Linked DNA regions of Homo sapiens. The protein of the gene in region 2 purifies or fractionates together with the protein of the main gene of each other region. This does not show direct contact. Each region holds a gene or a part of one and is shown on either strand. Other genes may lie near its edges.

The links.
Region 1: the proteins of FOXP4 (region 2) and BNC2 purify together in Homo sapiens (affinity purification with mass spectrometry, with the first as the bait; one study listed by BioGRID). This does not show direct contact.
Region 3: the proteins of FOXP4 (region 2) and PFKL purify together in Homo sapiens (affinity purification with mass spectrometry; one large-scale study listed by BioGRID and IntAct). This does not show direct contact.
Region 4: the proteins of FOXP4 (region 2) and ZNF148 purify together in Homo sapiens (affinity purification with mass spectrometry, with the first as the bait; one study listed by BioGRID). This does not show direct contact.
Region 5: the proteins of FOXP4 (region 2) and SOX13 purify together in Homo sapiens (affinity purification with mass spectrometry, with the first as the bait; one study listed by BioGRID). This does not show direct contact.
Region 6: the proteins of FOXP4 (region 2) and MKI67 fractionate together in Homo sapiens (co-fractionation; one large-scale study listed by BioGRID). This does not show direct contact.
Region 7: the proteins of FOXP4 (region 2) and PDPR fractionate together in Homo sapiens (co-fractionation; one large-scale study listed by BioGRID). This does not show direct contact.

What each region holds. Positions count from the first base shown.
Region 1 is NC_000009.12:16,416,171-16,419,670, reverse strand, and holds part of BNC2 (zinc finger protein basonuclin-2), read left to right. Parts: intron 1-21; coding exon 22-682; 3' UTR 683-3,500. UniProt on the Homo sapiens protein: Probable transcription factor specific for skin keratinocytes. May play a role in the differentiation of spermatozoa and oocytes. May also play an important role in early urinary-tract development.
Region 2 is NC_000006.12:41,594,881-41,598,380, forward strand, and holds part of FOXP4 (forkhead box protein P4), read left to right. Parts: coding exon 1-111; intron 112-2,295; coding exon 2,296-2,362; intron 2,363-2,900; coding exon 2,901-3,070; intron 3,071-3,500. UniProt on the Homo sapiens protein: Transcriptional repressor that represses lung-specific expression.
Region 3 is NC_000021.9:44,298,920-44,302,852, forward strand, and holds the start of PFKL (ATP-dependent 6-phosphofructokinase, liver type), read left to right. Parts: upstream 1-1,133; 5' UTR 1,134-1,186; coding exon 1,187-1,271; intron 1,272-3,933. UniProt on the Homo sapiens protein: Catalyzes the phosphorylation of D-fructose 6-phosphate to fructose 1,6-bisphosphate by ATP, the first committing step of glycolysis.
Region 4 is NC_000003.12:125,365,326-125,368,825, reverse strand, and holds part of ZNF148 (zinc finger protein 148), read left to right. Parts: intron 1-3,500. UniProt on the Homo sapiens protein: Involved in transcriptional regulation. Represses the transcription of a number of genes including gastrin, stromelysin and enolase. Binds to the G-rich box in the enhancer region of these genes.
Region 5 is NC_000001.11:204,125,115-204,128,243, forward strand, and holds the end of SOX13 (transcription factor SOX-13), read left to right. Parts: intron 1-743; coding exon 744-1,020; 3' UTR 1,021-2,629; downstream 2,630-3,129. UniProt on the Homo sapiens protein: Transcription factor that binds to DNA at the consensus sequence 5'-AACAAT-3'. Binds to the proximal promoter region of the myelin protein MPZ gene, and may thereby be involved in the differentiation of oligodendroglia in the developing spinal tube.
Region 6 is NC_000010.11:128,112,924-128,116,423, reverse strand, and holds part of MKI67 (proliferation marker protein Ki-67), read left to right. Parts: intron 1-416; coding exon 417-1,496; intron 1,497-2,821; coding exon 2,822-2,997; intron 2,998-3,500. UniProt on the Homo sapiens protein: Protein that associates with the surface of mitotic chromosomes and acts both as a chromosome repellent during early mitosis and chromosome attractant during late mitosis.
Region 7 is NC_000016.10:70,159,332-70,163,037, reverse strand, and holds the end of PDPR (pyruvate dehydrogenase phosphatase regulatory subunit, mitochondrial isoform 1 precursor), read right to left. Parts: 3' UTR 501-3,706; downstream 1-500. UniProt on the Homo sapiens protein: Decreases the sensitivity of PDP1 to magnesium ions, and this inhibition is reversed by the polyamine spermine.

The DNA.
Region 1 (3,500 bases), on a different chromosome or scaffold from region 2:
CCTTCCCTCTTGTTTTCCTAGACACAGTGCCAACATAAACCTACATCGTAAACTGTTGACCAAAGAACTCGATGACATGGGCCTGGACTCGTCGCAGCCCTCCCTTAGCAAGGACCTCCGCGATGAATTTTTGGTGAAGATATATGGTGCCCAGCACCCCATGGGGCTCGATGTCAGGGAAGACGCCTCCTCTCCCGCAGGGACTGAAGACTCCCACCTGAACGGGTATGGGAGAGGCATGGCAGAGGACTACATGGTCCTTGACTTGAGCACCACCTCCAGCCTCCAGTCCAGCAGCAGTATCCATTCCTCCAGAGAATCCGACGCAGGCAGCGATGAGGGGATTCTTCTCGATGACATTGACGGGGCGAGTGACAGTGGGGAGTCGGCACACAAGGCCGAGGCCCCTGCCCTCCCTGGCAGCCTAGGGGCTGAAGTTTCAGGATCTCTTATGTTCAGCAGCTTGTCTGGGAGCAATGGTGGGATCATGTGCAACATTTGCCACAAAATGTACAGCAACAAGGGGACCCTGAGAGTGCACTACAAAACTGTGCATTTGAGAGAAATGCACAAGTGCAAAGTCCCAGGTTGCAATATGATGTTTTCCTCTGTACGAAGCCGAAATCGGCACAGTCAGAACCCTAATCTCCACAAAAACATTCCCTTCACTTCAGTAGATTAGTCTCAGAATGGACACTACAAATGCCAGCTCTCACCAGATGGCCTACGTGTTTGAACTGCCATAGTCAGTGTGCGCTTATGTACTTGGGGTGTGTGTGTGTGTGTGTGTGTGTGTGCATTTATGTATGCTCTGTGGCTACATATACACACACGTATTTCCTTGAGATAAACAAGATAAACACTAGGTGCTTTTGAATTTTTTTCACTTCCCTTTATAGTTTTGGGAAAGGAGTGGGATCTTTGATTTCAGGGTGAAAACAGAGTACCCCTTTAAACACACACACACACACATGCACATACACACACACACACACACACACACACAGTGTGCAACTAGCCCCAGTTTTGACAGAATAATTCTTGGTCTTCCCCAAAGAGACAATTTGTTGTACCCATGACTGTTGCCTGCAAAAATAAAAGGGAAAAAAAAGAAAAAAGAAACAAAAAGGAACTTCTTATAGTTGTCTTTTGTGAACTTTAAGGTTTTGAAAGAATCTTCAATTAAAGCATGGCAGATTCACCTGTAAATATTTAGCCTTGAGGGGCCATTGATGTAAAACAATTGTATTGATGGTTGTTTAACTTTTTTGTTTAATTTTTACAGTTACATCCAGCTGTTAGATATGCAGGAAAAGATAGTTTGCTGGCTAGCTCTATTCATTTATGTTAGCATTAATGCACATTTTTAAAAAAAGAAAAAAACATGGTCTTGTTTTTACTACCTGTTAGATATAGTGCTAAAGAGGTGCTGGCATGCTTTACAGCACAGATCTGATTTTTTAAAATGTCCTGTACTAGTACATAAATCCCGTCATGCACTTTTTTTCATACACTACAAGGGGATGTGTAATAACCATGCTTCTTTTTTATCCTTAAACTATTGCCATACTTCAGTAAGTGTCTTTTTTAAAAAAAATTCACTTGTATAAAAATGGTCTGGTCAGTATAGGGCACAAATGCCAAACAAAGTATTAGTGTTAACACAAAACTGCCAACTTTGCACAAGTTTCCAGAAAAGAAAATACAATTAGTCACTCAACATAACCACAGGCCAATTTGTTGGCCACCAGAAAACCGCTTTTTAAAAAAACACTTGGTGATTCTTTCAAGTGCCGAATGTTATTAGAATCAACATTGCATCCTTCTTGCTTATACGTTAAGTTACATAAAAGGAAAACAAAATTATGTGGTGTGAAACAGCCAAGGCATTTATTCTTCAGAGGCAGGATAATATTTCAGGATACAAAAGCCCAAATTACCCGCTACGGAACAAAGATGAATACAGTAAAAGAGTCGAACACTCATTTCCAAGGCCCTAACCCTTATCCTTTAAAAAGAAATCCTCTGAACTGGGTCGGTCTGTTGTATGGCTGTCTAATTTGTTGCAAATTCTGCAGTCGTACTATAATTCAGGCCTGTTTGGTAGACAAAATCAAAAGGCATTTAACAGCAGCAGTACTTGGAAGCTTTGAAAACATGTGCTAAACTTGAATGGAGCAACACTCCTTTCTGAAAAGCCAGAAGAAGGGGGTTTTAAAGCAGGATCTCTCAATGTTCAGTGTTTTGTGTTTCCCCACACGATTTGTCAGAGAGAAATGAAAGCAAGCCTGAAACCAAGCAATTGAGAGTGAGAAAGAGGAGAGAGACTATTCTCCAAACCTTTTTTGTTTTGTTTTGTTTCCGATGTTTACACATGTTGCCTGAGCTGGTTAACCACATCGGCAGCCTCAGCTACCACAACATACTGACTAAATGATGATATTTACTCAAGTTCAGTCTGCAGCCAAAACCATTAGGGTGTGCATTGCAGACTGTTTTGTTGTCTTTTTTTTTTCTTTTTTCCTTTTTTTTTAAGTGGAGGGGAAAAGAAGAGATAAACAAGGAATATTTTGTCAAACAGTACACAATAATTTAAAGAGAATGTATTTCTTTTTTGCATTTAATGGCCTCAGACATTTCTTTCATCAGTCTAAAAGTTAGAAATATCCCTTTATTTTAACTTTTATGTCGTTTCCATTTTTCATGTTTTTGTAATTATTTTTTCTATGTTCACATCAGCATTCACTTCCGTTAAATTTGCCAAAGGAAACTGTTAATATGTTTCTGTTGTTATTATTCCTGTAGGATTTATTGTACCTCACAGTATTTATTGTTTCCCAAAATAAGCATCATTAGTTGGGGATTCAGTATTTTTGTTGTGAAAATTTCAGAAACAATAGATTCTTAAAGATAAGCTAGCTATGTCTAGGAGCTTTATCTTTTCACCTCCTTCAGAGGATGCTATGGGGTCCATTTTAATTCTTCATTTGTTCTACGGGGAGGAAAGACCAAAAGTATTTGCAGTACAAAAGAAACTATATCAAACACTATGTTAAATGACAAGTGTTTATGGTAAAAAGCTGAGGAATTAGTAATAATCGTTTTTGTTTTCTTGTACTTTGAATTCCCCAAAGTCTTAATTGCTTTATTTTGGTGTTGTGTTAAATTGAACAGACAGATGTTTTCCTTTGTTTTATACCATATAAGACTCTGTACAGTATGTTTGTGAAAGATTGAACTAGAATAATGAAAGTTTGTTTGCAAACATTTTGGTCCTCTCAGCGTTCTCTGTGTTGTGCTGTTGCCCCATTACCAAATGGTTAGATTCAAAAAGGGTGGGAAAAGATTTTTAATATCCCAACAAAACATTATAGAAACTCTGGCTTTTGCAGTGTGCATAGACTACATGTAGTTTTATGAAAATAAATACACATTTTTATTTCAGCAACTTTGAAAAGTTACACTCAGTTGAGTTACTAGAACTCATCTTGTACAACAGC
Region 2 (3,500 bases):
CCACAACCTCAGCCTGCACAAGTGCTTCGTCCGCGTGGAGAACGTCAAGGGTGCCGTGTGGACTGTGGACGAGCGGGAGTATCAGAAGCGGAGACCGCCAAAGATGACAGGGTATGTGGGTCCAGAGCTGGATGGGCTGTACCTGCCCAGGGGGCAGGAGCCAACTCACCCCCACCCCCTACCTCTCCAGGGTACACATGTGCACCAGATCCTTCCTGGCTGGGGGAAGGGGTGTGGGGAGAAAGGAGCAGAGGAGACTAGTGCTTGGGGACAGGGGGCTGGAATCCGGAAGTGATGGATAATCAGAAGGCAGACATTTATGTCCTCTTCTGTCCTCACTCTGACTGAGGGAAGGGGCCAAGAAGGAGGCCTGGTAGCAAAGAGAGACAGGGGCCCCAAGTAGCCCTGGCCAGAGCTGGCACACAGGCAGATGCCAGCCAACGGGCCATGGGTGAGGGGCTGCCACCCCCAGGGCACCCGCTCTCTCAGCTCATCAGGATGACTAGACCTCTGAGGTCCCGCGACCCCACCAATTCATCTTACGGCAGAGGAGAGCCAGTGAGGGCCAGGGGCTGGCAGGAGGCCCCAGAGCAGATTTGTGGCAGAGCTGGTTCCAGGACCAGGTCTCTGCCCTCCTGGTCTTTTGTGCTCAGCTTCACTTCACCACCTGGCATTTTATTTATTTACTTATTTATTTATTATTTTTTTAATTTTATTATTTTATTCATTTATTTTTTTTGAGAAGGAGTTTTGTTCTTGTTGCCCAGGCTAGAGTGCAATGGCACGATCTCAGCTCACTGGAACCTCCACTTCCCGGGTTCAAGCAATTCTCCTGCCCCAGCCTTTCGGGTAGCTAGAATTACAGGTGCCCACGACCACGCCCGGCTAATTTTTTTTGTATTTAGTAGAAATGTGGTTTCACCACGTTGGTCAGGCTGGTCTCGAATTCCCAACTTCAGGTGATCCACCTGCCTTGGCCTCCCAAAGTGCTAGGATTATAGGCGTGCACCAGCGCACCTGGCCTATTATTTTTTTGAGACAGAGTCTTGCTCTGTTGCCCAGGCTGGAGTGCAGTGGCACGATTTTGGCTCACTGCAACCTCCACCTTGTGGGTTCAAGCGATTCTCCTGCCTTAGCCTCCCGAGAAGCTGAAATTACAGGCGCCCACCACCACACCCAGCTAATTATTTTACTTTTGGTAGAGACGGGGTTTCACCCTGTTGACCAGGCTGATCTCGAACTCCTGACCTCAGGTGATCTGCCCGCATCGGCCTCCCAAAATGCTGGGATTACAGGCGTGAGCTACCGCACCTAGCCTCCACCTGGCAGTTTAAACAGAAACTGAGGAGCCTGGGACAGGGTCAGGACCTCCCTTTGGCTTCCACGTAGCAGCAGTGGCCTTCTCCCGACCTCAAACAGCCCCACCCCAGCCACCTGCTTGCTGTGCCCCTTGGGCCAGAGCCCCTGGGTAAGGAGAGGAGAGCAAGTTAGATGGATGTCTCTGAGGTGTGGGGTGTCTGCTCCCCTCAAAGATGCCTGCTTACCAGGCAGGAGCCTTTGCACCCCAGGCAGTGTGCAGCCTGGAGAATGGAGGGAAGCCATCCCCTGGTGAATGCCTAGGGGCCAGTCTCCAGGCCTGGCTGCGCTTGCACCTCTGCTTCTCACCAGTTTGGTGACCTTTGGCTGTTTCCTTAAGCTCTGTGAGAGCTCTGTGATGGTGTCATCACTGGAAGAGGGACAGCCCCCAGCCACTGCTTTTCCTGTCCCAACTCCCGAACACCTTCCCGTGCAGAGAAGCCTTCTGTATGGAGGCTTCCATACAGAAGCCTCCATGTGGGACAGGCTGAGCATATGTCTGACATGTCCCAAAATCTAGGATGGCAAGACAGTGTGGGCAGACCAGGTGTGTAACTACTGAGACTATAGATTAGACCTTGCCAAACATTGGAAAATCTAGACCGGAGAGAAAACGGGTGGGGGGGCAGCATGCTGTGAAGGCAGACACTGGGGGGATGCCAGTTCCCACTTCCCAGCTCCGAGACCTGGACAGGTCCCTGAACCAAGCCCATCGCACCCACCTGTGAAGGGGCTGCTCCTGCAGGGCCAGTTGAGCGTGAAGACCGAATCAGACCAAGTACACACACAGCTCCAAGACAGCGGCTGATCCGCCCTGGCCTCCCGGAATAGGGAATGGGACCCATTCCCAGCACAGGCCGTTACTTAGTGAGAGTAAAGAGATGCGAATGAAGAGCTAAGTGAATGAGTGAGCCAAAGATGGCCTTCTCTGTCCTCCAGGAGCCCCACCCTGGTGAAGAACATGATCTCTGGCCTCAGCTATGGAGCACTTAATGCCAGCTACCAGGTGACCTGCCCAGAGCCCACCCACTCACCTCTACCTCCCGCCCCCTTGCTTTCTCATACAAGAGACCCCCATCCTCCCCTGCAGAGGACTCACCAGAGGAGGGAAGGAGGGTGAAGACCCAAACTCTCCGAGACCCCACCTCTCTGCCCCACCCCAACTCGGGGCCAGCCTCCACCTCTGCTTTCAAGGCTGGGTTCAGACAAGGCAGGCAGCTGGGAGGATGGCATACCTATAGCATCCCCTTTCCTGGTTTGTCAGTCTGGGGGTTCTCTGTTCCCTGGGAGAGGGGATAAGCCAGGCCCAGGTTCCAGGAAAGCTAGGAGGTAGGAGGTCGGGGGGTCAGAGTTCCAGCCATGGGGGAGGGGTGCTACATTCAAAGGCTGAGTTGGGGCTTGGGGGTTGCCCAGACAGATCCGCCCGTGGGGCCAGTAGGCAGACACACAGGCAGCTCTCTAGTGGGCGGGGAAGGCACAGCACTTGACTGAGTGTGCCCCATCCTGTGGAGCCACTGACGAGGCCCAACCCTGTGCCCCTGCAGGCCGCCCTGGCCGAGAGCAGCTTCCCCCTCCTCAACAGCCCTGGCATGCTGAACCCTGGCTCCGCCAGCAGCCTGCTGCCCCTCAGCCACGATGACGTGGGTGCCCCCGTGGAGCCGCTGCCCAGCAACGGCAGCAGCAGCCCTCCTCGCCTCTCCCCGCCCCAGTACAGGTGAGCACACAGCACGGACCCCCACCCACCCCAGCACCCCTCAACCACCAGGGAGGAGGCGTCATCCCCCACCCTGGGTGGGGTTCCCCATCCCACCCCCACCACGCCTCTCCCCAGGACAAGTGGCTTCTCTCTTCCTTCCCTCAGCCCTCTCAGCCCTCCCTTGTCCCACCTGCCTGTTCTTATCCCCTCTCCCCACCTCCCCACCTTCCCACCTTCTCCTCCCCATTTTCCCCCTTTCTTATTTTTCCTCCTCCTCTCTTCTCTTTTTTTTTTTTTTTTTTAAGACGGAGTCTCGCTCTGTCACCCAGGCTGGAGTGTAATGGCAAGATCTTGGCTCACTGCAACCTCTGCCTCCTGGGTTCAAGTGATTCTCCTGCCTCAGCCTCCCAAGTAGCTGGAATTATAGGTGCCTGCCACCATGCCCAGC
Region 3 (3,933 bases), on a different chromosome or scaffold from region 2:
AGCTGGGATTACAGGCGCACACCACCATGCCCGGCTAATTTTTGTATTTTTAGTAGAGACGGGGTTTCACCATGTTGGCTGGGCTGGTCTCGAACTCCTGACCTCAGACCTCAGGTGATCCACCCCCCCCCCCCCCCCCCACCCCACGGGCCTCCCAAAGTTCTGGGATTATGGGCGTGAGCCACTGCGCCCAGCCTGTGTTTTTCTTTTATAGTAGCCATCCTAATGGGTATGAGGTGGTACCTCATTGTGGCTAAACCATGTACGTTTAAGAATTTACACACACACACACACACACACACACACACACGTGATGAAGCTGTAAGAAAAGGGAGAGAATAATGACCCAAAATGTCAGCACAAGGATGCCTCAGGGGTAGACACAGGTGTCTTCTTAGCGCCTTTTAGCCCACGCATATGTGCTTGCGCAGTCTCTCGGTGTGTTTTCTAACATTTCACAATTAAATAAGGAGTAGTTGATATTCACAGCCACCATTTCCACCGTATATGTAGAGAAAAATGCTCAAATCCTAGCGATCAGCCCGCTGAGCTTTCACAAACCGAACACACCGTGCGGTCACGAGGCGGCTCTCCCGAACACCGGCTCTGCACCCCCAGGGCCCGGGGAACCAAGACTTCCCCAAGGGCCCAGCAAAAGTGAGGGAGGAGGGGAGGAAAGGAGGGAGAGGGAGGGAGGAGTGCTGGCTGCTTTCCGCCAGCGCCTCGTTTGGGTTTCGCTCTGCTGAGGCCTGAAGGCGCCCTGAGGGCCCCTGGGGGGCAGGGAGGGGCGGTGGCTGCGGCCGACAGCAAGGAACCTCCGGAGAAGCGAAGCCGGGCCAGACGTGCCACCGGGGCCTCGGCGCTGGCGAAGGGGCGCGTGCGGCCGCACTGGGGCCAGCCCCGCCCTGGTCCCCGGCCACATCCTCGAGACCACCGGGGTGGAGGGGGGGGTCTCACTGCTCAGGGCCCGCGTGACATTGCACAGGTTTAGAAACGCACAGCGGGAAGGTGGCCCCGGCGGGCCGAGGGCGCAGGATCCCTGCTCCGTCCAGGGTCCGTCCTGCGAGGAGGCGCCGGGGGCGGGCCCGGGGCGGGGCGGGCGGAAGGCGCGCGCGGGGCGGGGCGGGGACGGCGACGCGGCGCAGGCGGCGGGAGTGCGAGCTGGGCCCGTGTTTCGGCCGCCGCCATGGCCGCGGTGGACCTGGAGAAGCTGCGGGCGTCGGGCGCGGGCAAGGCCATCGGCGTCCTGACCAGCGGCGGCGACGCGCAAGGTGGGCGGGGGTCCCGGCCGCGTCGCGGCGCAGGGGGTGGAGGGCGCCTCCGCCCTGGCCTCTCCGGAGCGCCCGCCGAGCCCCGGGACCCGGGTCTCGGGCCGGCCCGGCCTCCCGCCCCGGCCTCCCGCCCCGGCCTCCTGCCCCGGGTCTGTCCCCCGCTCTTCCCCGGCGCGGTCTCCGGCCTACGTGCGGCCGGCCACGTTCTCGGCCTCCGCCTGGGTCTTGGCGCCGCCCGCGCCCTGCCCCGGGGGTGTGTCCGACTCTGGGCCGCGGGGCAGGACCTCCCGAGGAGTCCCCGAGGCCACGCGAGCGGAGGGCGCCGGTCCCGCCACCCCCAGAGCCTGGCCCTTCCTGGTTCTGAAGCGACCCGGGGACCCGGTGCCTCCCGAGGGCCGGCGCCAGGCTGCGGGCTTCCGGGACCTCCTCCCGGCTGGGCGGGGGCGGACTCACTCCCGGACCGCGCCTCCTCCTCGGGGCCCTCGCGGCCGCCTTCCTTGTGGGTCTAGCTGGGGAAGAGGGCGGTGGGGAGATGGGCTGCCCGGGGCATTGAGCAAAGCCCAGTTGTCACCCTTTTCGCAGGGGTACTGGGGAGGCCTCAGGTGGTGGGGACTGGGACTTGGCAGAGCTGGGTGGGGGTCCGGCCTGAGGGCGTGGTGTCCTCGCACGCTCCCTCCCGGAGGCCTGGTCCTGCCCACTGCCGGCCTCCAGTGTCTCTGGCCTGACATGTCCAGTGTGGCACCTGTGGCACAGGACGCCACCTACCCTACCCCTCAGGAGGAGAGAGGAGAGGATTTAGGAGACCAGAAGTGAGGTGCTGGGTTGGGAAGGGGCCCAGCCAGCACCCCAAGGCTGTGCAGCGGGGTCTGGTCTGTCTTTTAGAGTTCAGAAAATGGTTGAGAAAATGCGGACACACACCCCCACCCAGCTTCAGGCACCTGACCCTCCTTTTCCCTATCTGGAAGCCAGGAAGAGGCGAGAAGGAAGCCGGCCTTGAGTGGGACCAAGCCAGGGAGGCAGGAGTGGCTCGTGGGTGTCACTGTCTGAACCCCGGCCTGCAGAGGGGGCTCCTTCAGACCTGGCTGAGCCAGGCCTGTGGTGGCTGCCCACCCGCCCTTTTCACAGCTGTGGCAAGAGCGGGAGCTGCTGCTTGTTGCCGGCTACTGGCAGTGTCCTGGAGCCAGTGTGGCTCCACAAGTCCTGTCCTGTGTGGCTCTGGGTCACGCCTTTCCTGTGGGCCAGGGGTCCGTGTTGTCGAGAGGGGAGGGCGTTGTTCAAGGATGTCTTTTTGCACAATAACCTGTGCAAAGGTAGCTAGAAGACTTGAAGCAGGCCGGGTGCGGTGGCTCACACCTGTAATTCCAGCACTTTGGGTGGCCTGGTGGGTTGTGGGCCCAGGTGGGAGAGGAGGCCCGTGGCCTTGGAGGGTGAACTCGGGAAGCTCCATCCCATGAGATTAGACAAGAAAGGCCCCGAGTCTGGAGGGCAGACAGGTTGCTGTGGGGCCAGCCCGCCTGCCCACCAGGGAGGCGCTTTCTTGGTGAGGCTGGTGAAGCCCCAAAGCCCACCTGTGGTTCCCTGAAACACAGAGGGTCCCCAACCAGCTTCCTTGTTTGCAAAGTGGGAGCATCAGCAGTGGAGGGTTGGGAAAGTTGAGAGCCTGGGGTGGCACGTGCCCCCCCCACCCCCTGCCACCCCATGCACAGACTAAACAGAGAAGGGGGGCTCGCTGGAGGTTGCTGAAGGGCCAGCCTGGCAGGTGGTTCTTGGGCCAGCGGGGAGGGGCACCCAGGGTGACAGGCGGTTCTGGATGCTGGTGGAGGATCTGGAGATGGGATGCCCCTCCTGGCCCTGTGGACAGGCCGGCTGGGTGGGCCTCCCATCTCTGTCTGAGCTGGGGGTTCCAACTGCTCAGCCTGGCCCCAGTGCCTGATATGGAGTGGGCAGCGCTTCCTGGCTGCAGCTGGGAGGGTGCCCACAGTGCACCTGCTGGCCGATCATGGCATCCCAGTTGGGCCTGTGCCTTCCTCTGCAAATGTCCTCCCTTCCCAAGCCCCGTGCAGCTGCAGCGTCTCTGTATGTGAGCTCCCATGCGTGGACAGGGAACAGGTGGTTTTCTGCAAGGGAGGAGGACTCCACACACTTCCCCAGTTCAGGGCTGGGGCTGATTCATGGAGGATGATCTGGGGCGAGTAGGATGGGAGGAACTGACATTCTGGGCAGAACCAGAGTCCTGTTTCATGAGTTCGGAAAAGCAGTCTGCAGGGCTCTCCCAGGCCACCACTGCTGCTGCCGTGTGGCTCCCCATGGTGGGTGCTCTGTTTTCCTTCTCGGGGCCCCACTGCCTTCCTAGAAAGGCTGACCCTGGCCGAGGGGAAGCCTGTGGCATAGTGTGCCCTTCTCTTTGCCCTCTATGTCAGCCGGGCAGCAGGAGAGTGGGGACTGGGAGGCACTTTCTGCCCCAATGCTGAAGTCTGCGTTTGTTGGATGTATGGAACAGCCAGCCTCACCATCCTGCCAGTGTTGCCCAGTCCTGGGACTTCTCGGGCCTTGATTTCCCCTTCTGTGAAAGGGGGTTGGGGACAAGACAGGCCACCTTGCAAGTTCCTTCCAGCCAGCCCACAAGTCCTGTCCTGTGTGGCTCTGGGTCACGCCTTTCCTG
Region 4 (3,500 bases), on a different chromosome or scaffold from region 2:
TACAGGCGTGCACCACCACTTCTGGCAATTTTTTGTATTTTTTAGTAGAGATGGGGTTTCGCCGTGTTGGCCAGGCTGGTGTCGAACTCCTGGCCTCAAGTGATCCACTCACCTTGGCCTCCCAAAGTGCTGTGATTTCAGGCATGAGTCATCACACCCGGCCAAGAGGCACACTTTTAAATAATACATGGTATAATCTTATTCTGAATGGTCTTATTGATGACAGATCTTTTTACTTTGAAATTTTGATTTTTAGAAATGCTGAAGGTTAGTCAATATCAAATAGAGTGAATGAAAAATAGTTTTGCCTTAAATCCAGTTAATCACAGAAACGGGAATAATTTTCTTGGTTGACTTATTAGCTGATTTTGAAAACACTCCCAAGGAGGAAGTTGGAAATATTTTGAACAGGGGTGATAGCTTCACATGTAGTTAGTTAGGCACTACATAAATGTTGGTTGAGTGCATCAGATGGTTGGATGGATGGAGTGAATAAATGAGTAAGTGGTAGCCTTCCAAAGTAACTTATTTTAAAGAGGACCATACTGATTTGAATGTGTAAATAAATTTTTTAAAAACTCATTTTTCTCAGATGAAATAAATTCTGAGTATGTTTGTTAATAATTTTATTACCTTGAGCAAGATAGTTTAAGTTCACAAATGAGTTTTACAGACAGTAAGTGCTGTAGGAGTTCAGGGAATGGAGAAATGAACATTGGCTAAGGTTTGGTGAAATGATTTAAGTGAACCATACTTATATTTGAAAAGATTCCTTAGGGATCTCAGAGAGGAACTAAATGACTCCAAATTCCTCTTGCAGCCCTAAAGTGAACCTAGAGTCTGGATCTATTTTTGTCTGAATGCTTTCTGCCTGTTTCATTTTAGCTACTCCTACTGGTTTGTTCCTTTCAGATTCACATTTGTTGGTAGATGTTGAGCCCCCTGAAACAACTATGGGGTCTGTTTTCCGTCTTCGTATAGTGTAACTTTTAGTTGTTCTTTTATGAGCCTGTACCCCACAAATTACTTGGCCTTCATGAGAGAAGAGCATGAGTCAACTTGGCCCTGTTATCCTGGCATTTTCCTGCATGCTTTTCTCAAAGCTGCTTTCTGAATTACGGAATAGAATAGACAGAACTGAGGGCATGTGTCCAGTAGACACGAGCTTGTTGAATGAATGAATGAATGAATGAATGAGATATTTGAGATAATTTAGGAGATCTGAATTGTCTATATGTTTTATGTTTCTTTTTCATTTATTCATAACCTGCCTTTTTCTACAAAGGACTTAACAGGGCTGCCAAACTATATGCACTAGCAATGAATTGAAATAATTCAATAAATCTGGTTAAAGAGATGATGAAGAAAAGAAAAATCTGTTTAAAGAATATAGATCAATGTGTATCGGTGTTAGAGAACTAGGAATAAGGTAGAAGATAAGCAGATGGGGAAGGAAAGGTGGTATCTGATAGAAAGCATGATTCTGAAGGAGGGAAAAGATTACTGAAATATGACAGGCTATCTTTGGAGGAAAGCATGAGAAGATGGAGGGTAAAGAGGATTATTTGAGACGGCTGTTTTGAGGAGGAAGATGGTAAGGCTATTTGAAGGATAAGAGTCAACAGAAGTTTGGAATATAGTAGAAGTTATTAAATTATGTTGATTTATAACAAGGTTTCAGAAAATGATGGGATGAGCTTTATTTAACAGATAATGCACATTTGTTATATGCAAAAGCATATAATGCTTTGCTGTCAGGAATAAAACCTTTGGGATTTATATTGTGGTAGGGCAGCTGGACTTGTGCACAAATACCTGTACTATAATCACAAATATATCTGTGAGTCACAAATATACCAAATATTACTGAATTTAAAAGGCAGAAAATGCATTTGATTAGGAGAAAACCTGAGACAGAACTTTAAAGGCATAAAAGTGGAATTTTAGCTAGTCTTTGAAGGGATTGATAAGATTTTTTTTTTTAAGTTTTGGATTGATAGGATTTTGATTGGCAAAGATTACTGAAAGAGAGCATTCCTGCCTGAGAGATTAGCGTAAGCAAAGGCTTGGAGGTGAGAAGCCCAGGAGATGTGGGGAATGGTGAGTTAGGTTTTAATTTTTAAACTATGACCTATAGTAAGAAATACATGTCACACTTCTATCTAATATATGCATGTATGAATGTTTGTGTGTGGGTAAAACAAGAAGTTTCATAATACAGTAACTGTCCTTAACAGTGGCAGGTGCAGTTGGATGTTATCTATTTTGTTTGACTAAAAAGAAAAAAAGCTGGCCAAGGGGGAAGAAAAAAAAGCTGATTGTCACTCATTAAACTGATTTCATGACCGACAAAATAATTAATCACAATCTATAGTTTGGAACGCAGAGAGTTCATGAATAAGGTATAATACAAGGTAGGAGAGTCAGTTGGGGTTGGGTTGAAAATGGATGGCCTTGAAAGCTAAGCTAAGTAGTTTGTATTTGATATGATGTAGTGTTGTGCTTGGTAAGCAAACAGAAGCTGGGTTTTAGTCTTGGCTCTTCTGTTTACCCACTGTATGATTATGGAGAATTATTTCCTTTCTGAGTTTCCATTTTCTCATAAAATTGATAATCATACTTTCCTGGCAAGGGTTATGGTGAGGATGTGAGAATTAAAGTATGTTAACATATGATTAAAGTATGTTAGCAGAAATCATTAGTGTATAGCTGTTGAACTTTTCTGAGTAGAGAATTGAGCCAAGGACCGTATATTAGATAGCTGGCAATAGCTATACCTTACTGGGTAGATTGCGGGTAATGTGGTGGTAGAGTAAGATTGTATGTGAAAAGACCAGTTAGAAAACAAAAAGACCAGTTAGGTGGCTACTGGAGATATTAAGAAGGGCTTGAATTAGTTTGATAGCAGTAGGATTAGAATATGGAAGTGGAATGCAGTTGGAGGTAGGGAAGAGGGGAAGATGACTAGAAATATGCTATTTATTTATTTATTATTGAATGAACGAACGTGAGGCTCTTGATCTGTTGCCCAGGCTGGAATGCAGTTGTGTGAACGCAGCAGCTCACTGCAGCCTCTACCTCGTGGATTCAAGTGATCCTCTTGCCTCAGCCTTCCGAGTACCTGGGACCACAGGCATGTACCACCACGCCTGGCTAATTTTCAATTTTTTTTGTAGAGATGTGGTCTCACCATGTTGCCTGGGCTGATCTCAAACTCTTGGGCTCCAGTGATCCCCTCCCTCAGCTTCCCAAAGTGTTGGGATTACAGGTGTGAGCCACCATGCCTGGCTGACTGGAAATTTAGAGTTGTAGAAATATTCAAATGGCAGCAGCTGAAATTGGATTATATTTTTGGGTAGTTTAGTGCAGTACATTAGAGTATAATTTTAGTTTCTTTCATGTAGTAGGTGCTCAATTATTTGTTGAATGATAGAAACTAAATACGTGGACTGTGGGATGAATTGTGAGTAGAAGCAGTGATGGGTGGATGTGAGAAGGAG
Region 5 (3,129 bases), on a different chromosome or scaffold from region 2:
GGAGAAAGTGCCTGTAGATCCCACGGCCGATAAACTCAATAGAAATTCAGAGGTGCTAGAAATCAAAGTATTCATCACACAGAAAGGTTCCTGACTTGACTAAAGCAAGCACCCTAGTCTATTCCTTTAAACAGGACATCTCCCAGGGCATTTAAAATATACAATTTCTGCCTGGTATAGTGACACACGCCTGTAATGCCAACACTTTGGGAGGCTGAGGCAGGAGGATCCCTTGAGCTCAGGAGTTTGAGACCAGCCTGGGCAACATAGTGAAACCTCATCTTTAAATAAAATTAGCCAGGTGTGGTGGTTCACACCTGTAGTCCCAGCTACTCAGGAGGCTGAGGCAGGCTCAGGAGGATCACTTGAGCCTGGGAGGCTGACGCTGCAGTCAGCTGTGATTGTACCACTGTTCTCCAGCATGGGTGACAGAGCATGACCCTGTCTCTAAATATAAGTAAACAAAACATAAAATATACAAGTTCTAAAAACTGGATTCACACATGATCCTCCAAGAATATTATCTGTTGAACACATCTATGGCCCTAGGTCTGCAGGTCATCTGCAGGGTCGTAGGTGCCAGTGAATTTGGCCATCAGAAAGCAGGCTGGGGGCAGGGTATATAAGTCACAGCCAAGAGTGTGTGGAGTGGGAGTGCATGCTCTGAGGAGGCCTGGAGGGGAGATGGGTTTGGGGTTGAATCAAGTGTGCATCCATCACCGTTCCCCTTCTCTGCCCCACAGCCCGCAGGCTGGCCAGGTGCAGATGAGCTCCTCAGATGTCCTGTACCCTCGGGCAGCAGGCATGCCGCTGGCACAGCCACTGGTGGAGCACTATGTCCCTCGTAGCCTGGACCCCAACATGCCTGTGATCGTCAACACCTGCAGCCTCAGAGAGGAGGGTGAGGGCACAGATGACAGGCACTCGGTGGCTGATGGCGAGATGTACCGGTACAGCGAGGACGAGGACTCGGAGGGCGAAGAGAAGAGCGATGGGGAGTTGGTGGTGCTCACAGACTGATCCCGGCTGGGTGGGCCTGGCCCCTTCTCCTCTGGGGAAGACCTTGTCCCAACTCGATGGGCACAGCCAGCCAACCTAAGACTATGTTGGTACTTGGACTTGTTCGTGCCCCAGAGATGGGCAAAGCTGTGCACTTGCAGATACATTCATGAGGGGAGAGGCGCCCTCCCTTCCTGAGGAGCTGTTGGCCTGGGTGGGCAGGAACTGCAGTATGGCCATGGGCTGAGCAGGCTGAGCACCTCAGCCTTTAGGGCTTATGGCCAGGGGACACTGTATGACTCTCCTCTCCTGCAGGTGTCTATCCACCTGGGGTATGGCATCTACCGACCTGTCTCCCTGGGGTCACATGCTTTGTTTCCATTCTTGTCCTGGCTGGACCAGCCACTGTGGGACCAACACCCCTCCCACACTCCCCCAGACTGCTCGTCTATCACCAGGATCGCTTTGTACTTTGTGCAAAAGGGTCTGGCTGTCCCTTGCTGTTTTCATCTCTGCCAAGCCTATTGTGCCTCTGGCTGCTGTATGTGTGCGCGTGCACGTGTGTGTGTTTCATCTGTTCATTCACTGCACAAGATATTTATTGAGTGCCCACTACGTGCCAGGCACTGTTGCTGAGTTCCTGTGGGTGTGTCTCTCGATGCCACTCCTGCTTCTCTGGGGGCCTCTTTCTGTGCTTCTCTTTGTCCCCAAATTGCTACCTCTTTGTCAGTCTGGGTGTCTCAGGTTCTGTGTGTCCTTGTGTGCATTTCTGTCTCTCTCTGTCCTCGTCTCTCTGCAAGGCCCTCTATTTCTCTCTTTCTTGGTGTCTGTCCTTTGCCCCCTGTGCCCTCTGGATTCTCTGGGTCTATGTAGGCCCCTGGTCTGCCCTGGGCTCATCAGCCTTCCTGACCTCCTCCTGCCCTCCCCTTCACTCCCTCCCTGGCTCTGCCAGTCGGTTCCCACGGAGCCATTTTTAGCTCTGATCAGCATGGGAATGTGCCTCGGCCTCCAAGGGGCTTTGTCCTGGTGCCCCCGCCCCTGGTCCCAACCTGATCCCACGAGGGAGTTGGGACAGGAGGATTGATGGTGCTCCCCTTCCTGCCAGCGTCAGAGGCCCTGGAGAGGGGCTGTCCATGGCAGCTGGTCTTTATTCCTCCCTCATGAGCACAGGGTCGGGGGGGTCCCCATTCTTGGAAGAGGTTGAGAAGACTCCTGGGCTTCAGCCTCTCCCACCCAGCCCTGCCCCTCACCTGCCTGCCCTCCCCTCCCCCACTCTATACTAGGGACTGGATCTCAGCCTCTGATCAGTTTCACAAAGTTTGTTCCCTAAGGAAATCAAATCCCATTGTCACCTAACTCTGAAGATCTAAATAGCCCTTGGATCAGTATGGGAACCCCAAATCCCACAGGGCCAGATGTGGAGTCTGTGTCTGCCCCCGTCTTCTCTCCATCCTCAAAGCCCCCACTTCTCTCCAGGCTGTTTCTTTTTTTATGACTGTAAACATAGATAGTGCTTTATTTTGTTAATAATAAGATAATGATGAGTAACTTAACCAGCACATTTCTCCTGTTTACACTCGGGGGATTTTTTTGTTTTCTGATGACATAATAAAGACAGATCATTTCAGAATCTGGCCCTTGTGCAGGGGAGGAGGGAGGCTGGCCTAAGTCCAGAATTCCCAAATATGCCACCAGCCTGGGCACCACTGTCCCCTGGTGGCAGCCTGCAGGAGCTTCAGGCCTGGGGCCTCAGAGGAATTGGCTTAATGCAAGGGAATCCCAGGCCAAGCTTGTGAGTGACACATGCCCTCCACAGAGCCCACGCTGAATGCCCCTACCTTGACGAGGTGAGGCCACCCGGATCCTAAGAAAGAAGGCAGTAGTAAGAGCACTGTAATAGGAGTCATGAAGCTCGGGGTCTCTCTAGAACTGGCCACATGGCTGGGGTTGGGGAGTGGGAGCCAGGTCTCTCCTTTGGGGCCTCATTGTCCTCATCTGACAACAAGATTAAACCTTATACCTGGTTCTTACCATTCAGAGAAGTAGCCCTTTGAGACTCTAATGAAAGCTGTGGATCCTTTTCTTAGAAAAGGGCCCACAAAGGTTTACCCTGAAGCCCATCTGAGGCCC
Region 6 (3,500 bases), on a different chromosome or scaffold from region 2:
GAAGGGGCAACAAGAATGCAAGTGCTAAATGTCTAGCCTGTCAGAAATGGAGGAGGTGTCATTTAACATGTCAACGACAGACAGATGCCTAACTTTCCCTTGGTGACTGATGGTATGCTATGCTTAGGAGAGACTCTAGATATGAGAAAATTGCCTGTTCAGCTGTCAACTCAGTTCTCAGTAGTTAGATAGCATGTGCTATTTCATACTGGTTATTGGAGCTGATATGATTTATATATTTGTATCATAATACTAGTATCATAAGACTTGCAAGTTTTAGGCATTAAATAATTTGTAGGCCAAGTAAAAGCTAGCTTATAAGACAACCTGAAACAATTAAAATATTGAATTCCACAAATGTTAATCATTGAGAAAATGCTGAACTTCTGTTTCTTATTTCATAATTCATTGCCAAGATGAGAAAGCTCAAGATTCCAAGGCCTATTCAAAAATCACTGAAGGAAAAGTTTCAGGAAATCCTCAGGTACATATCAAGAATGTCAAAGAAGACAGTACCGCAGATGACTCAAAAGACAGTGTTGCTCAGGGAACAACTAATGTTCATTCCTCAGAACATGCTGGACGTAATGGCAGAAATGCAGCTGATCCCATTTCTGGGGATTTTAAAGAAATTTCCAGCGTTAAATTAGTGAGCCGTTATGGAGAATTGAAGTCTGTTCCCACTACACAATGTCTTGACAATAGCAAAAAAAATGAATCTCCCTTTTGGAAGCTTTATGAGTCAGTGAAGAAAGAGTTGGATGTAAAATCACAAAAAGAAAATGTCCTACAGTATTGTAGAAAATCTGGATTACAAACTGATTACGCAACAGAGAAAGAAAGTGCTGATGGTTTACAGGGGGAGACCCAACTGTTGGTCTCGCGTAAGTCAAGACCAAAATCTGGTGGGAGCGGCCACGCTGTGGCAGAGCCTGCTTCACCTGAACAAGAGCTTGACCAGAACAAGGGGAAGGGAAGAGACGTGGAGTCTGTTCAGACTCCCAGCAAGGCTGTGGGCGCCAGCTTTCCTCTCTATGAGCCGGCTAAAATGAAGACCCCTGTACAATATTCACAGCAACAAAATTCTCCACAAAAACATAAGAACAAAGACCTGTATACTACTGGTAGAAGAGAATCTGTGAATCTGGGTAAAAGTGAAGGCTTCAAGGCTGGTGATAAAACTCTTACTCCCAGGAAGCTTTCAACTAGAAATCGAACACCAGCTAAAGTTGAAGATGCAGCTGACTCTGCCACTAAGCCAGAAAATCTCTCTTCCAAAACCAGAGGAAGTATTCCTACAGATGTGGAAGTTCTGCCTACGGAAACTGAAATTCACAATGAGCCATTTTTAACTCTGTGGCTCACTCAAGTTGAGAGGAAGATCCAAAAGGATTCCCTCAGCAAGCCTGAGAAATTGGGCACTACAGCTGGACAGATGTGCTCTGGGTTACCTGGTCTTAGTTCAGTTGATATCAACAACTTTGGTGATTCCATTAGTAAGTTTATTTAATTGTAAATTTATTTTTCTAAAAGATGAACACCTTCTATGTAGCTGTGAGACCTTCATTCTTTCAGTAGTGATTAGCTTTGTGGAAGAGAATGTAAGCACATAAGGCACAGGGATAAGACAGACACGCACGCTGTTTTCGCTAATAGATGAATACTGAAGGCCTAGGTAATTGTAACAAGGAATGACAGAAGAGATGGAAGTTGTCAGGCAATCATGAAGCAGGGGTTATTGAAGGAGATAGGGTGGCCCCAAAAATATTTGATTCTCCTCCATCTATCACAAAATAGAAAAGAGAATAATCATAATTGCTTTTCACATGGAGTTTAATTCTGAACTACAATCAACTGTATCATATGAGTTTGGTCATGTGGAATAAATCACTGGTAATCATTAAACATAGCGGTAGTTCTCAGGTGTTGATACTCTGTTTTCAGAGTGTCCTACAAACAATTTGCTGTAAACACTGGACTGTACCCATGAGTCCATATGCCACATGAACACTTGATCCTTGGTGCAATAGCAGTGCCCGTGGCTAGGTTGTCTTTTTAGAGCTATGTCACACATGAGGAAACGCACAACCCAAGGCCAGTCAGGAAGTGGCAGAGGTAGGACCTTTATAGCAGGTGTGGTAGCTCCTCGGGAGCTTCCTACACTCCTAGGGACTGGCTATTAGAAGAAAAGTTGTCTGGGCCACAGACGCAGTATTCGTACTCCAGGCTGTGTTTCTGCAGGTGGCCTATAGCGGTGGGGCATGAGGCTGTCGATAAAATAAGGTTTGTAACATCAGTCTCAGTATTCCACCAAGCTTCCTAGTGGGGAAGCATCACTTAGGCAAGGGATTTACATTAACTGGTGGCTCAGGAAAATGTGTGGCCGGGACTGGGCTCCTGTGAATTGACTCAGAACCACCTGGAGGAGTTTTTACAGCTCATGCATTCTGGTCACTGGGTGGCTCAGGCTGAGACCCAAGTGCATGTCTTTAGAGAGTTCTCTGGCTGTCGTCCCCCTACTCTAAGGTGAAATCTGCTGCTGCAGACTCCTCCTTTCTATGTCCACACATAATGTTTCAATGTTTTAAAGAAAGCCTCTGTACTGTCCAGTGGCAACTTGACGTCTTAGTGGCCACTCCCGCAATCCTTTAGGAACTCTTAGTAGCTTAGCTTCACCAGGATTGCAAGAATAGAGGCGTGCTGTAGGTACTGTGTTTCGATGACTTTTCACTTGGTTTGTCTTTAATGCTAACGTGAAATAAATCACTAGTCTTGGTATGTTTTTTCATTGCTCTTTCCACATTTGTATCCGTTACTTTAGATGAGAGTGAGGGAATACCTTTGAAAAGAAGGCGTGTGTCCTTTGGTGGGCACCTAAGACCTGAACTATTTGATGAAAACTTGCCTCCTAATACGCCTCTCAAAAGGGGAGAAGCCCCAACCAAAAGAAAGTCTCTGGTAATGCACACTCCACCTGTCCTGAAGAAAATCATCAAGGTGAGTTGAACAAGCAGCATCCCATTCACGCCCAGTGGCTCACACACCGGGTACCTATTCCTTTCCAAATACTGACACAAGTAGAATTATGATGAAGACCTTTATTTATTTATTAAAGAAACAAGTTTTTAAAAAGACGAATGAAAGCTCATTGATGTGGGCACCAGCAAAGGAGCCCCTGGGTCCCTGACCGTGGTGCTGATGCGACCGAGTCGGGGGAGTCCTTGATGTTGTCCTTTTCGTGCAGAAGTTCCCAGACACCCACGCTTACAGCACTGCGTAATCACCTGCAGGCACCGTCAGAATAGCCAATTACAAAGATTCTGGATACATTACCACGTCGACCCATAAGGATTGTTTTATTTTCTTTTAGAGTTACAAGGCTATAGTTAAGGCATTTACCTGGTGTGAAGGAAAATCAATGGCACATCTTCCTTTTACACCTTCAGCTCTTTAGAATATTTGCTTGCCTGTTCCTTTGCTGTGTTGTCCTTCCTGGGTTT
Region 7 (3,706 bases), on a different chromosome or scaffold from region 2:
TGGAGGTTGCAGTAAGCCAAGATCACACCACTGTACTCCAGCCTGGGCAAAAGAGCAAGACTCTGCCTCAAAAAAAAAAATTAGTGAACAGGTCAAGTCCAGGGACCAACTTGTGGATGGAAGCTGGTGTAGAAAAAGAGCACTGGTTGTTTCTCTCAGGGTTGTTTCCACAGGGTGAGAACACGACCCCCCTTGCTTTCCACACAAACCTGAGTGCACACGTGCCCGTGTGGAACATCAGGTGGCAGGTTCCTCCTGAGGTCAGCTGTAGGCAGAAGGCCGGTCGGAATTTCAGGAGGCGGGAAGCTTTTACCCCCAGCCACTCCAGCGCTGCAGGGAGGGTAAGATAAACACCTACATCTTCTCTACCCCCGTCCCCAAATCCTCCCTCACACTGGTACACACAGGGAGGTACACACTCTCCTCTGCACGCTGTTTATGCTTTGTGGTGGCAAACACATTTAAGTCACTACAGATGAAGAACATTTCACAAGCAGCCGTGCAAGAGTAGTTAAAATGTGTTTATTCATTTACAAACCCAGTAACATGAGAAGAAACTCAGTGGAAACCTTGCTTGGTGGAGACAGTGCACAGTGTTAGTGCCACATTCACAGGGGCAGAAATGCTCGGTCACCCTGTGCACCCAAAGTCACCCAGGATCTCTAGAAAAGATCCCACTTACTGAAGTGCCTCGGATGTCTTCAGGGCCAGATTGTAACTACACAGGAACAGGGAAGGGCTAAGCTGAACTGCAAATTGACAAACACAAACGATGAGTCACAGGACTCTACAGTAGTTACAATGGCATTTTTATATGTCCCAAGTGTTGACTGGAGAGTAAAGTGTTAACTGAGCTGCTAGAACACCCTTCACTGAAAGAGCTTTCTACCCCACGCCCATTGTTCCGAAGAAGGAGAGGCTATGTGGGGCGGATGGGAACCCACACACCGAGATGAACTTTTCTCTTTCTTCCAATCTGCACCCACCATCTGACATTCTGGAGTGTAAGGCACTAGAACCTGGCTTAGAGAATAGTGGGGCTCTAAGCTCCAGTTCTTGGTGTGCAAAGGAAATTCTGACATACATCTTTTGAAAGAGATGCTAAAAAACCCTCCCTATCTCCTGTAATTTCTGTCTTTGACAGACAGGAAAATAAGAAGGCAGAAGATGGTCTGCAAAGGATAAAAACAGGTGCATCTAAGAATGAGAAAAATGGCTCATGAAGAAATGTGTAACTCTCCAAGAGATGCAGACACTCTGCTCAGAGAAGTCAAGAACCATAAACAACTCTTCATGTTTCATGGACAAAGGGAAGGCAAAGGCATACAAAAATACTCAGTTGTCTTGAAAAGTGTACTGGTAGTGATCAGGGCTACAAAGGCGAGCCCTGTACTGACAATGGAGGAGCCTTACAACTCAGCACCTTAAATTGTTGGCCTGAAGTGGTGGCGGGGAGGGAGGCGCTGACGGAGAGACCCATGGCTCACCACTTATTGCGTGTACACAAGGCCTGGGGCAAGCCTCACAAGTCTACCATTTCTTCCACTCAACTGTGCTTCTCCTGAATCCATGTGCCTGAAATGACATATGCAAGGTGAACATTCTTTATACTGTGTTAATACTGCTTATATCAATGTTCGTGAGGGGTGTGTGGGGGATGGGGTGCAGCAGGAAAATTAGAATGGCAGGAGGTTCTTATTTATTATTAAGCACTGTTGACCAAACCTCTATCTTAGATTTTTTTTTTTTTTTTTTTGAGACAAGAGTCTCACTCTGTTACCCAGGCTGGAGTGCAGTGGTGCAATCTCAGCTCACTGCAACCTCTGCCTCCTGGGTTCAAGCAATTCTCCCACCTCACTGGGCCTCCCAAAGTGCTGGGATTACAGGAGTAAGCGACCACGCCCGGCCAACCAAACCTCTATCTTAGATGTTAAAGAAGACCCTTATTGACTACACTGGCCAAGAAGCAACAGAGATATAAAGCTGAATCTTGTAGCTAACCCCTGAAAGCAAGCCAACGCAAATTCCTCCGCCAGGCCAGTCTTCTAGTGCCAATATGGAGACTGTGGGCCACAGAAGATTCCCTTCTATTTCAGGTTCTCAAAAAGTGGTGTAGACTCAGGCAAATGCCAGGAAATGTGTCCATATGCCAGAGGAGACACAGAGCCAGAAATGAAGGCTATGGGTCCTGTCTTCAGTGAAACACTGAACGCTCTCGGAAAGCTCCCATCATTCTTGCATCGCTACTGCCACCAAGACGGTGGCAAGGGAGGAGGCTAACTTTCAAATGCATGCAACGGCAGGTAATATACTGTGGAAGCTGGAGGTTTACTTTTCATGTTTTAGTTACTTTCTTGCAAACAGCAGTCCAGGAAAGCAAGCAAGCAGGTAAAACTCCGGGTGTGCATGAGGAGATGATCCAAGGCCAGTGGGCCTCCCAGTGAGAACCAAACAGGAGTGGCCAGGCTCCACTCCTGGGGCCAGAGTGAAACCGGGGTTTAATCACTGGGCTATGTGGTCTCTGTGTCTCTGGCCTGAATGAGATCTCTTCAATGTCGGGGGACAGGGATCCCTGGAAGAGCGTGAAAAATACAGTGGTCACTGTGCAGTTCTCTCTGCTGGAGCCTGTCCTGCCATCATACAAGGTGCTGTGACAGCAATGCAAGGTGAAAGGAGATCAAATGGCCCAGCTCAGCAGTTAGTGTTTGTCCCTTTTTGCTCTTCAGAGTTCCTGAATGAGAGCTTTTCTGGCTTCAGTACCAATGATCACAGAAGGAACATCTTCCTGATGCAAGCTTAGATGGAAGTCAATGACCCTGGCAGTGCTAAGAACAGAAGTCACACGTGGCCTGACGATGAAGGGGAGGTAATTAAAGACATTTCAAGGGAGGGGAAGGCCCACGGAAAACTGGCAACCCTGGGTCTCCGTTTGAGGCCAATATACTTTGTGTTCCTAGGTTCAGATGGCATACACCGACAAGAGAAGGCAGAGACCATCCTTCGTGGTGAGCACAAAATGCTATGACAGGTAATTGCAGAGAGAAAAAAGCACCCAACTCTGTAAAGCCAAGTCCAGTCACCCATTCACAAGAGTCCAAAATCCTTCAAATCTCTAGGGACAGAAGACAAACGTGCTGCCCAGAATGAGCTGAGACACAAGGCAAACCCTTGGAAATGACACATGGATGAGGAGGCTGTGGTTGTCCCTCCTTATTCCTGCTGGATTTGCAGCCACGGCTCTGGATCTGGGGCATCTACTGGCCTCCCCTGTTCACTCAAGAGGCCACTGCCTCTCAGGAGTCCAGAATGCTCTGATATCTGACACCGGTGGTCAGGAAGTTATGCTGCCCTCTCCTCTTGAACAGCTAAGATGCTTGGACACTAGACAGAGGCAAAGCAGTTATGCCAGAAGCAGGGGAGAGTCATTCACTGTCAGATCTGTCTGTTCAAAGAGCTCACATTAGACCAATCACAGAAAACCACCAGACTCACACAGCTTGTATTTGAATGAACCAGGAGAGACTTCAAGGATCAACTCTAAAGTGCTAGAAGAGAAATCTGTGTTTGGGGCACTGAATAAACAAGTGATGTCCTAGAAGATCAACACCCCATCAGTCTTAGGAGTATGACCCTATTCATGGACAAGGGGTTTCAATGGACAGCCTGAGTGCTCAGCCCCCCATCCTCCTCTCCTAGCAAGACAAGC